Homo sapiens: one gene and its partners. The protein of the gene in region 1 purifies or fractionates together with the protein of each later gene. This does not show direct contact. Each region holds a gene or a part of one and is shown in the gene's direction. Other genes may lie near its edges. The genes, in order: PLEKHB2, KRT85 and KRT82.

What was found.
Region 2: the proteins of PLEKHB2 (region 1) and KRT85 purify together in Homo sapiens (affinity purification with mass spectrometry; one large-scale study listed by BioGRID and IntAct). This does not show direct contact.
Region 3: the proteins of PLEKHB2 (region 1) and KRT82 purify together in Homo sapiens (affinity purification with mass spectrometry; one large-scale study listed by BioGRID and IntAct). This does not show direct contact.

What each region holds. Positions count from the first base shown.
Region 1 is NC_000002.12:131,125,705-131,129,361, forward strand, and holds part of PLEKHB2 (pleckstrin homology domain-containing family B member 2), read left to right. Parts: intron 1-48; coding exon 49-201; intron 202-979; coding exon 980-1,082; intron 1,083-3,657. UniProt on the Homo sapiens protein: Involved in retrograde transport of recycling endosomes.
Region 2 is NC_000012.12:52,361,837-52,364,481, reverse strand, and holds part of KRT85 (keratin, type II cuticular Hb5), read left to right. Parts: exon of another isoform or gene 1-61; coding exon of another isoform or gene 62-115; coding exon 116-176; intron 177-318; coding exon 319-414; intron 415-1,071; coding exon 1,072-1,236; intron 1,237-1,502; coding exon 1,503-1,628; intron 1,629-2,010; coding exon 2,011-2,231; intron 2,232-2,645.
Region 3 is NC_000012.12:52,393,313-52,396,374, reverse strand, and holds the end of KRT82 (keratin, type II cuticular Hb2), read left to right. Parts: intron 1-142; coding exon 143-363; intron 364-584; coding exon 585-616; intron 617-1,179; coding exon 1,180-1,400; 3' UTR 1,401-2,444; downstream 2,445-3,062.

The sequences.
Region 1 (3,657 bases):
GACTGTCTCTAAAAAAAAAAAAACAACCGTACTATTTTTTTTTTCCAGGTACTATTTTGAAGCGCTGGAAGAAGAACTGGTTTGATCTGTGGTCGGATGGTCACCTGATCTATTATGATGACCAGACTCGGCAGAATATCGAGGATAAGGTCCACATGCCAATGGACTGCATCAACATCCGCACGGGGCAGGAATGTCGGGGTAAGCTGGCCTGTCTTGGCCAACTTCTGTCTTCTGCTCTTCCTCTGTCTTGCTGGGAGCTTGGTCCTCTTCCTTCCCTGTTCTGCTTTCATTAACAGATTGAAGAAGGGCTCCATCTCAGAGGGGCGACCACAGTGGGGCCCCAGGCACTTAGATTATGAACCACATGGTCGGGAAATATCAGTGTTCTCAGTCCACGTCCCTCGTTCTCGTGGAGAGGGAGCCAGAGCTCTGGGAACCTCAGGAAGCACAGGCCACCCTAGACTACGTTGATTTTGTACTCAGAAACTGGCTTCTGTTTGATGGTGACTCCAGTCAATTGCTTAAAATCTGGGATGTTGGCCAGGCATGGTGGCTCATGCCTGTAATCCCAGCACTTTGGGAGGCCGAGGTGGGTGGATCACGAGGGCAGGAGTTCAAGACCACCCTGGCCAAGATGGTGAAACCCCAACTCTACTAAAAATACAAAAAAATTAGCCAGGTGTGGTGGCAGGTGCCTGTAATCTGGCTACTCAGGAGGCTGAGGTAGAGAATTGCTTGAACCCGGGAGTCAGAGGTTGCAGTGAGCCGAATATATTTTGTGGACGTCATCTTGGCAGCTGGTCTTGTCAGTCAGCCTAGCTATGTTCTTTCTGCATTCTTGGAAAGGCAGAGGGTTCTTTCATAGATGTAGCACTTGATTTATTGTCTAGTCCTTTGCTTCTCTGAGCTGGTAGTTCTTAGAAAATGTAAGAAGAAATCCTGAAAAAAGTTCCTTTATTCTGCTTATTTTTCATAGATACTCAGCCCCCGGATGGAAAGTCAAAAGACTGCATGCTCCAGATTGTTTGTCGAGATGGGAAAACAATTAGTCTTTGTGCAGAAAGCACAGATGATTGCTTGTAAGTTTTGCTTTCTTATGTGTTTAATTTAAAAAGTATTTTCTATTTTAACTTCTGATTACCAAAAAATGAAAAGAAAGGGCGTGGAGTTTTCTTTCAGGCATCAGAATAAGGGACTCAGTGGATGTATGAGAGAAATGCAAGAGTCGCTTTTCCAATTCTAGTTTCTGCCTCTCTCAGACTGCCTAGGCCGATCCCATTGTGGTGAAAATGGCAGAAAGGAATAGCAGTCTCATCATGCTGTCTTTCATTATTAGATTCACAGTGGGTAACGGGCATAGTTGAAATAAAATGACCAGAAAAGCAAGAAAGTAAAGAGTAAGGAAACTGTCAGTTCCTAGGGCTGCTGTCACAAATTGCTGAACACTGAGTGACGGAAATGGCAGAAATTCATTGTCTCATAGTTCTGGAGGCTGGAAGTCTGGAATCAGTGTGTCAGCAGATCCTTGCTCCCTCTGAGATGCTGGGTAGGATCCTTTCTTGCCTCTTCCTAGCTTCTGGTGGTTGCTGGTAGTCCTTGGTGTTCTTTGGCTGACAGCCACATCACTCCGGTCTCTGCCTCTGTTGTCACATGGCCTTCTTCGGCTGTGTCTGTGTCCAGAATTCTCTTTTCTTATAAAGGACACCAATCATAATGGATTAAGGACCCACCTTAATTCACTATGACCTTATCTTAATTTGATTCCATATGCAAATATCCTATTTCCACATAAGGTCCCATTTGAGGGTACTGGGGATTAGGATTTATACATATCTTTTTCATGAGGACACAATTGAACCCATAATAGAGACTTTTGAGAAAGATGGTGAAATGGATTAGAGATCATCTTCCCTGAGGGGAAAACATTTCAATGGTGCAACCAAATAAAGAAGTTTGATCTCAAGCACAAACTACAAACAGTTAAAGAAAGAAATAGATGATTCTACTGAGATGTTCTTCAATCCTACCCGAATCCCAGAAGCAGTGACAAGATGAGTTAATTAAATCTTGCAAATTTTCAGTATTACCCTGTAATCTGGAGTGATGCTGATTAAGTGTAAGTTACTTTTTGGAAAAGCTAGGGAAAAAATCCTTAAGAATGTGATGTCCTTGGGGCCTCAGCAGAGGCTGGACGGTTCTCCCAGGACTCATCATTGCAGGGCAGTGAAAGGCACTGAAGCTCACAGGAGTTGGGTAATTTTCTGTCTGGTGAAGTGAGCCCTAGCATGGGACATTCAAAGGAATATGCTCAGAAGAGAGTGTAGGACCCAGAGTTTTCAGAAAAGACTTACTCGGTCTCAGAAGAAATGTCCTTCTCTTCTAGCCCTGTGCCCTCAGATTACAGAATGTTGATTGTGAGGGTAACACCTAGCCATCAAACTGTTGCTGGGCTGGACTGAGGTAGAACAGGGTGGAACTACCAGTTGATACCAGATTAGGTAGGAAGCGTGTCAAGGAGAAATAACTCATACTTTATGAGAGCAAACAGCAGTTTTAGATATCACTTCCCATGTTAAACGTGAGCAGGATGTAAAGAAGTGGCTTGGCAACTATGCAGATATACCATGAAGGAAAAATAAGAAAAGGAAAATGCAAGCCTCAGGAAAAGCTCCTAGAGTGGAGGAAAATAAAACCCAAGAAACAGGAGCAGAGTCTTCAGGAATGCTTTCCTGGCCACCATATTTAAAATTGTATCTCCCTGTCCCCATACACACTCACCATCTATCAACTATTTATCTTGTTCATCATCTGCTTTCATTAGAATATATGCTGTGTGAGGGCAGAGATTTATGTTTCTTTTCTGCTCTTTTGTGTCTGTAACTTAGAAGGTCTGTTGCTGTCAAGAGGGTGCCATTCACGTTATAATCTGAAGAAAGTGGTCTTCCCTTCAATACAACCCCAAATGAAAAGTGAATCATTGGCATGGAAGAAAAGACTGGAGATACTCTCAGTGACAGGAAAAAGATGAAAAGATCAGAGATATGTTAGACTAAAAAAAGTTCAGAAAGATTATTGATGTCCATAAAGTGTACAACCCAAAAGAGAGAATTACAAATCTAAGGCAAGAAAAATGTTCTGAAATAATCGAACTGAATTGGCAGACCAAAGTCCCTACTAGACTCTTCCACCTGATATGACAACAAAATCTATATAAGATATATGAATAATCCAGTATGATACCCTTTAGCAAAGTGAATGACAATGGTATGCCACATACAAAATCAGTTGGGGAATTTTGCAACTTAACTGCATTCCTTAGAAAGCTAGAACACTTGGGCTGGGTGTGGTGGCTCAAGCTTGTAATCCCAGCACTTTGGGAGGTCAAGGCGGATGGATCACCTGAGGTCAGGAGTTCGAGACCAGCCTGGCCAACATGGTGAAACCTCGTCTCTACTAAAAATACAAAAATTAGCCAGGCGTGGTGGCAGGCACCTGTAATCCCAGCTACTTGGGAGGCTGAGGCAGGAGAATGGCGTGAACCTGGGAGGTGGAGGTTGCGGTGAGCCAAGATCACACCACTGTACTCCAGCCTGGACAACAGAGTGAGACTCCATCTCAAAAAAAAAAAAAAAAAAAAAAAAAAAAGAAAGCCAG
Region 2 (2,645 bases), on another chromosome or scaffold:
ACAACATCTGGAGGGGATTAATCCCTTTTCAATCCCCGGAAGAACTTGCCCAGGAGTTGGGATGGTATTCAAGGTCCAGTTTCTCAGCTCCAGACCTTCTCTCTCCCACACCCAGGTATGAAGAGGAGGTGGCCCTGAGAGCCACAGCAGAGAATGAGTTTGTCGTTCTAAAGAAGGTGAGGGGCTGGTCATGGGGCAAGGAGGAGGGGGCCCATCAGTGCAAACTCCAGCGAGGGGCAGGGTCACCATGCTGACCAAAGGCACCTTTCTTTGGTCTCCTCTCACATGCATGTCCCCTCCTCTTTGTCCCACGGCCAGGACGTGGACTGTGCCTACCTGCGGAAATCAGACCTGGAGGCCAATGTGGAGGCCCTGGTGGAGGAGTCTAGCTTCCTGAGGCGCCTCTATGAAGAGGTAAGGGGGCAACTGCCACCCAGCCAGGGCAGGTGGAGGGGTGTTTTGGAGACAGGGGAGCAGTGAGGCAAGGGTGCATGTGTGTGCCTATGTTTGCCAATGTGCAATGTAAGTGTGAAAAGAGCTTGCACATACGTGCTGGGGCCCACAATACAGAGGCCATGTCCACGTTCATGTGTGAGAGGAGCATGGGGTGTACATGTTCTTGGGCTGCTCTGTGTCTGTGACCTCTCTGCATGTTGGTGTGCTGCCTGTGTGAGTGCCAGTCTACAGATGGGCAAGAGAGTGTGCATGTGTGGTGGGGGTCAGGATGGCTTCGCACATAGGGCATGGTCCTCATTAATGGACTGACTAATCACTCATCCTAGCCTCCAAACCCCAGCTCCCCTGCTGGGTGACTTTGGACCAGATCTTTTTCACCCTCTGGGCCTCAGTTTTCCCACTTTTAAGGCAGACACTGTTCCCAGATGGCCTCTACAGCCCCTTTCAGCTTTGTTGTTTTTAAGGAGCCTGTGCATGAGTGAAGGTGGTAGGAGCAGGAGTCATGTAACCTTCATGACCAGTGCCCGGTCTGGGAAGTGGACATTGTCCCCTGGGGTGGATCACGTGGCCCAGATCAGGCACTAGAAGCAAATGCACTGGCTGTTGGCCCCACAGGAGATCCGCGTTCTCCAAGCCCACATCTCAGACACCTCGGTCATAGTCAAGATGGACAACAGCCGAGACCTGAACATGGACTGCATCATCGCTGAGATCAAGGCTCAGTATGACGATGTTGCCAGCCGCAGCCGGGCCGAGGCTGAGTCCTGGTACCGTAGCAAGGTGAGTGGCACAGGACACCTGCCTGCTAAGCATGGCAGTGGGAGGGAAGTTAGGCATCTATTAGAAAAGATTTCTCTTGCCTGGGGATTCTGACCCATGAGGACAGTATGAGAAAAGCCAGTAGTTCTCAGGTTGAAGTGGCAGGGCAGGACTGCCATGTGTGGTTGCACAGGCTGAGCACCGTACAACCTGTATAGTCATCTGTGGTGTCCTGAATGGATGGGGGGCCCCACCCTGAGCCTCATGAGCATCTCTACTTCCTCCAGTGTGAGGAGATGAAGGCCACGGTGATCAGGCATGGGGAGACCCTGCGCCGCACCAAGGAGGAGATCAACGAGCTGAACCGCATGATCCAGAGGCTGACGGCCGAGATTGAGAATGCCAAGTGCCAGGTGGGGTCTGTGGAGGATTCAAATACGCAGCACAGGCAGGCTGCAGCACCTGGCCCTAATCAGGCTTCACAGTGTGCCCATGAGGAAGCAGGGACCCAGAGGGAAGGGAGGGGCTCTATCATATTTCACAGCAATCAGACCATGTCACTGACTTCCAAAGGAGGATCCAGCCCCTTCCTTGGCCACCCTGTGACCGCCATCAAGGAGAGATGATGAAAAGCCCACCCATCTCCTCCCTCATATTCACAGCCCCATTAACTACCTGGCCACGGGCCAACCTTCTCTCCAGGACCCTCCTCTCCCTGCCCTGGCTCCATCAGCTTGGGTGAGCCAAGCTGTGGCTTCTCTTTCTCATCCTGGCCCTTGTATCTCCACCTGATAGCGTGCCAAGCTGGAGGCTGCTGTGGCTGAGGCAGAGCAGCAGGGTGAGGCGGCCCTCAGCGATGCCCGCTGCAAGCTGGCTGAGCTGGAGGGCGCCCTGCAGAAGGCCAAGCAGGACATGGCCTGCCTGCTCAAGGAGTACCAGGAGGTGATGAACTCCAAGCTGGGCCTGGACATCGAGATCGCCACCTACAGGCGCCTGCTGGAGGGCGAGGAACACAGGTGGGGCTAAGAGGACTTTGTGGGGTTTCAGAGGTGGAGGCTGTGGTCCTCCAGGAGTGAATTTCCTTGAGCTGAGTGTGAGCTACAACTCTGGCCATGGCTAATACAATAGCTTCAATAATAATAATAATAATAACTGAATGCTTCTGTGCTAGACCTGTGCTAAGTGTTTATTTTATAATCCTCACAATCCAATAAGATAGATATGGTTTTTCCCATCTTTTTATCTTTAGATAAAGAAGCAGGCTCAGAATTCAGTGCCTTTATCATGGCTACGCAGTTAATAAGCAGAAGAGCTGGGACCTGCACCCAAGTCTCATGCCTCCCAAATCCGTCCTTGTTGAATAGCTTCCTACTGAAGCTGCTGCCACACAGGCCTGTGTGTTATGATGATGATGCACTTCTATATGCATT
Region 3 (3,062 bases), on another chromosome or scaffold:
GGAACCAGATGTCGCAATCCTAGGATGAAGCTCGCAAATGTGAGCCTGGCACGTAGCCACCCCCGTGTTCTCTCTGCTCTTCTGCGAGTCTGGCTTGGGGCTCCAGGGCCCCCAGTGATGCTTTTCTGCGCCCCTCCCACAGCGCTGCAAACTTGAGGGTGCCATAGCTGAGGCAGAGCAGCAGGGCGAGGCGGCTCTCAATGATGCCAAGTGCAAGCTGGCAGGGCTGGAGGAGGCTCTGCAGAAGGCCAAGCAGGACATGGCCTGCCTGCTCAAGGAATATCAGGAGGTGATGAACTCCAAGCTGGGCCTGGACATCGAGATCGCCACCTACAGGCGCCTGCTGGAGGGTGAAGAGCACAGGTGAGCTCCTCCAGGAGGGGGTCAAAGATGGGCTACCAGGTATGGCCATTACCCAGCCCTCTGGTGGCGGCTGCTAGTATCTCTCACCCCGTCCCCTACCCACATTCATTGAAAACCCACAGCAGCACATGGTCCACAATGAGGGCGGGAGCGGGGAGATGCTGCATTTACCTGCATCTGTTTGATGTAGATACCTGTTTTCTTTTTCCTCTCATCCCCAGGCTGTGCGAAGGCATCGGGCCCGTGAATATCTGTAAGTAGATGAGCCATGCCCCACTGGCTCTGGAGTCTTGGGGGTTGATCACCCCAACACAGGCAGCCCACACCACCCCTTCCTAGACCTCTGATGCCTCCCCTACCCCAAAGGAAGAGCTCTGTCTGCCGTGAGCTCCCAGGCTGGTGGAAAGGGCTATCCAAATCTTTTGGGAGTCAGACTAGGAGCAGATTTGCAACAACATGGTCCAAGTGCTTCAGGGCCCAGAAGCCACAAATAACCACCCTGACAAGAGGATGCTCTTCTAGAGGAAGAGGATTTGAAGCAAGCTTAGGAAGGAGGGACCAGTAGAAACTGAGAAATGGTGAAGCTGAATCCAGCCTGGCCTTGCCCAGGCTCTAGGGAAAGGAGAGAGGTGCATGGGGACCTTGCAAGCACTTTATGTGGCTAGGGTGGGAGACGCGGAGGCTGGAGGCTGGAATGGGGTGTCTGTAGAGGTGAGTGGCAGGAGGTGGGAGGAATGGCCTGGCTGAGTAGTTTCAGGGCAGTACACTGAGAGCCACACCGTGTGGGGCCCTGAGCACCCCTTCCTGTTCCCACAGCAGTGAGCAGCTCCAAAGGCGCCTTCCTGTACGAGCCATGTGGGGTCAGCACGCCTGTCCTCAGCACTGGCGTCCTCAGGAGCAATGGGGGCTGCAGCATCGTGGGCACTGGTGAACTCTATGTCCCCTGCGAGCCCCAGGGGCTACTGAGCTGTGGGAGCGGGCGGAAATCCAGCATGACGCTAGGAGCTGGGGGCAGCTCCCCCAGCCACAAGCATTAGCATGATCCGAGACATCCAGGAGACAGAGCCCCTGCCCCATGGCCCTGGATGTCACACTCCCACCAGGGCTGAAGACAAGGATGTTCCAAAACCCCACCTCCCTTTATTGACTCCACATTCCCCTCCAGTGTTCCCTCCTTGAGAGCTGAGCTGCCCCTAGGACCCCTCCTTTGCCTCATGAGTCACCTTCCACTCACCTGTGTGCAGACCCTCAGCTAGGCCCAGATGGTGGGGACAGACGGCAGAGAAAGAGCATGCATTGCTCTTAACCGCAGAATGGCAATAACCCCCAAAAGGTCAAATGGGCACACCACAGTTCTGCTCTGTGGATCATCCCATGGAAGTTTCCTCACAAAGTCAGCTCCTCTCCCACCACAGGCTCACACTGCCCTTACTTTAGGCTCTCATGCCCCTAAGAAAAGTGAATTTCCTTTAACACCGCCTGAAACATGCACACTGCAAATATCAAAAGGAGACACCCCCAAATCCCACTCTAAATTCCAAAGCCAAGTGCCACGATTTCAGGATCAGTCAGGACCTGCCAATGTCCTCTCAGCACAGAGAATCAAGAGGTGGCCTTTGGGCAGTAGATTTACTTTCTCAGGTATGTTGAACCCAAACTGTGAGAATAAATCTTTCTCCTGAGCTCACATTGGCAGGTGATGTCAGGCCAATGCCTAGAACAAAGGGCAAAGGGATATGGAATGTTTACTGGACAGTTGGAAAACCAAAAACAGATACCATTTTCTCAATGGAATCAGTTCCCCCTCCACCCATCCCCTTCTGTACATAGCCGCCCCTTCCTGTTCCCCAACCCTTTAGCTCCTTTTGCTTTGAGTCTGATATGACAGTGATGTGGGGCTGCCCCAGCTGACTTGGAGGCCCTGGCTCAGGAGCTCATAGATGGAGGAGGTGTGGGCTGACTACCTCCCAGAAGCCCCTCATGCCAAGCCTGTCCCACTGGGGCTCCAGGGCCTCTGCCCTGAACATCTGGGCTTCTGTTCAAAATAAACCTACTCTGTTCATGGATTATAGCAATCAGGATTATTTACTCTGCTCTGTGGAAAGTGTGATAAGGCTGAGGGGGAACTGGTGAGCAGCTTTTTGGGACTGGAGTCTTCGGAACAGAAATGAAGACTATTATACAAACAGAAACACTACATGTAAATAATTTGCAAATTGCCTGTGGAAGAAATAGGGCTCTATACAAATCACACTTAAAACCTGCACGTCACACCCCAATGGTTTGCAAGTCACTTGCCATGTTAAAAGCCACAAGCCCATTGCACACAGGCCTCCTCACTACATGGTGTCCTATACACATCCTAGAGAAAATCCTTGGGGTCCTCTATTGTGTCTAGACTTAGCAGCCCCCAAGCCCTAGGCTCTGTCCCTATCCCGAACCATTCTCAGTGCCTGGATACCCCCAGCTCCAGGAAAGCAGTGAAGATGGTGGCAGCCCATGGAGTGAGGAGGACCAGGACACTCCAGTCTCCTCTCCCCATTTAGAGAGCCCAAGACCTGGAGATTTGGCGGCGGTGCTTCCACCCTCTGTGAGGCCTCAGTCCCCTTTCCTCTGCCTCACCGACCCCCTGAAACAGCCCCTCCTGGGGGGTGCTTTCCCCCTTATGGCTCCCCTCTCCTGAGAGTTGGGATGACTCC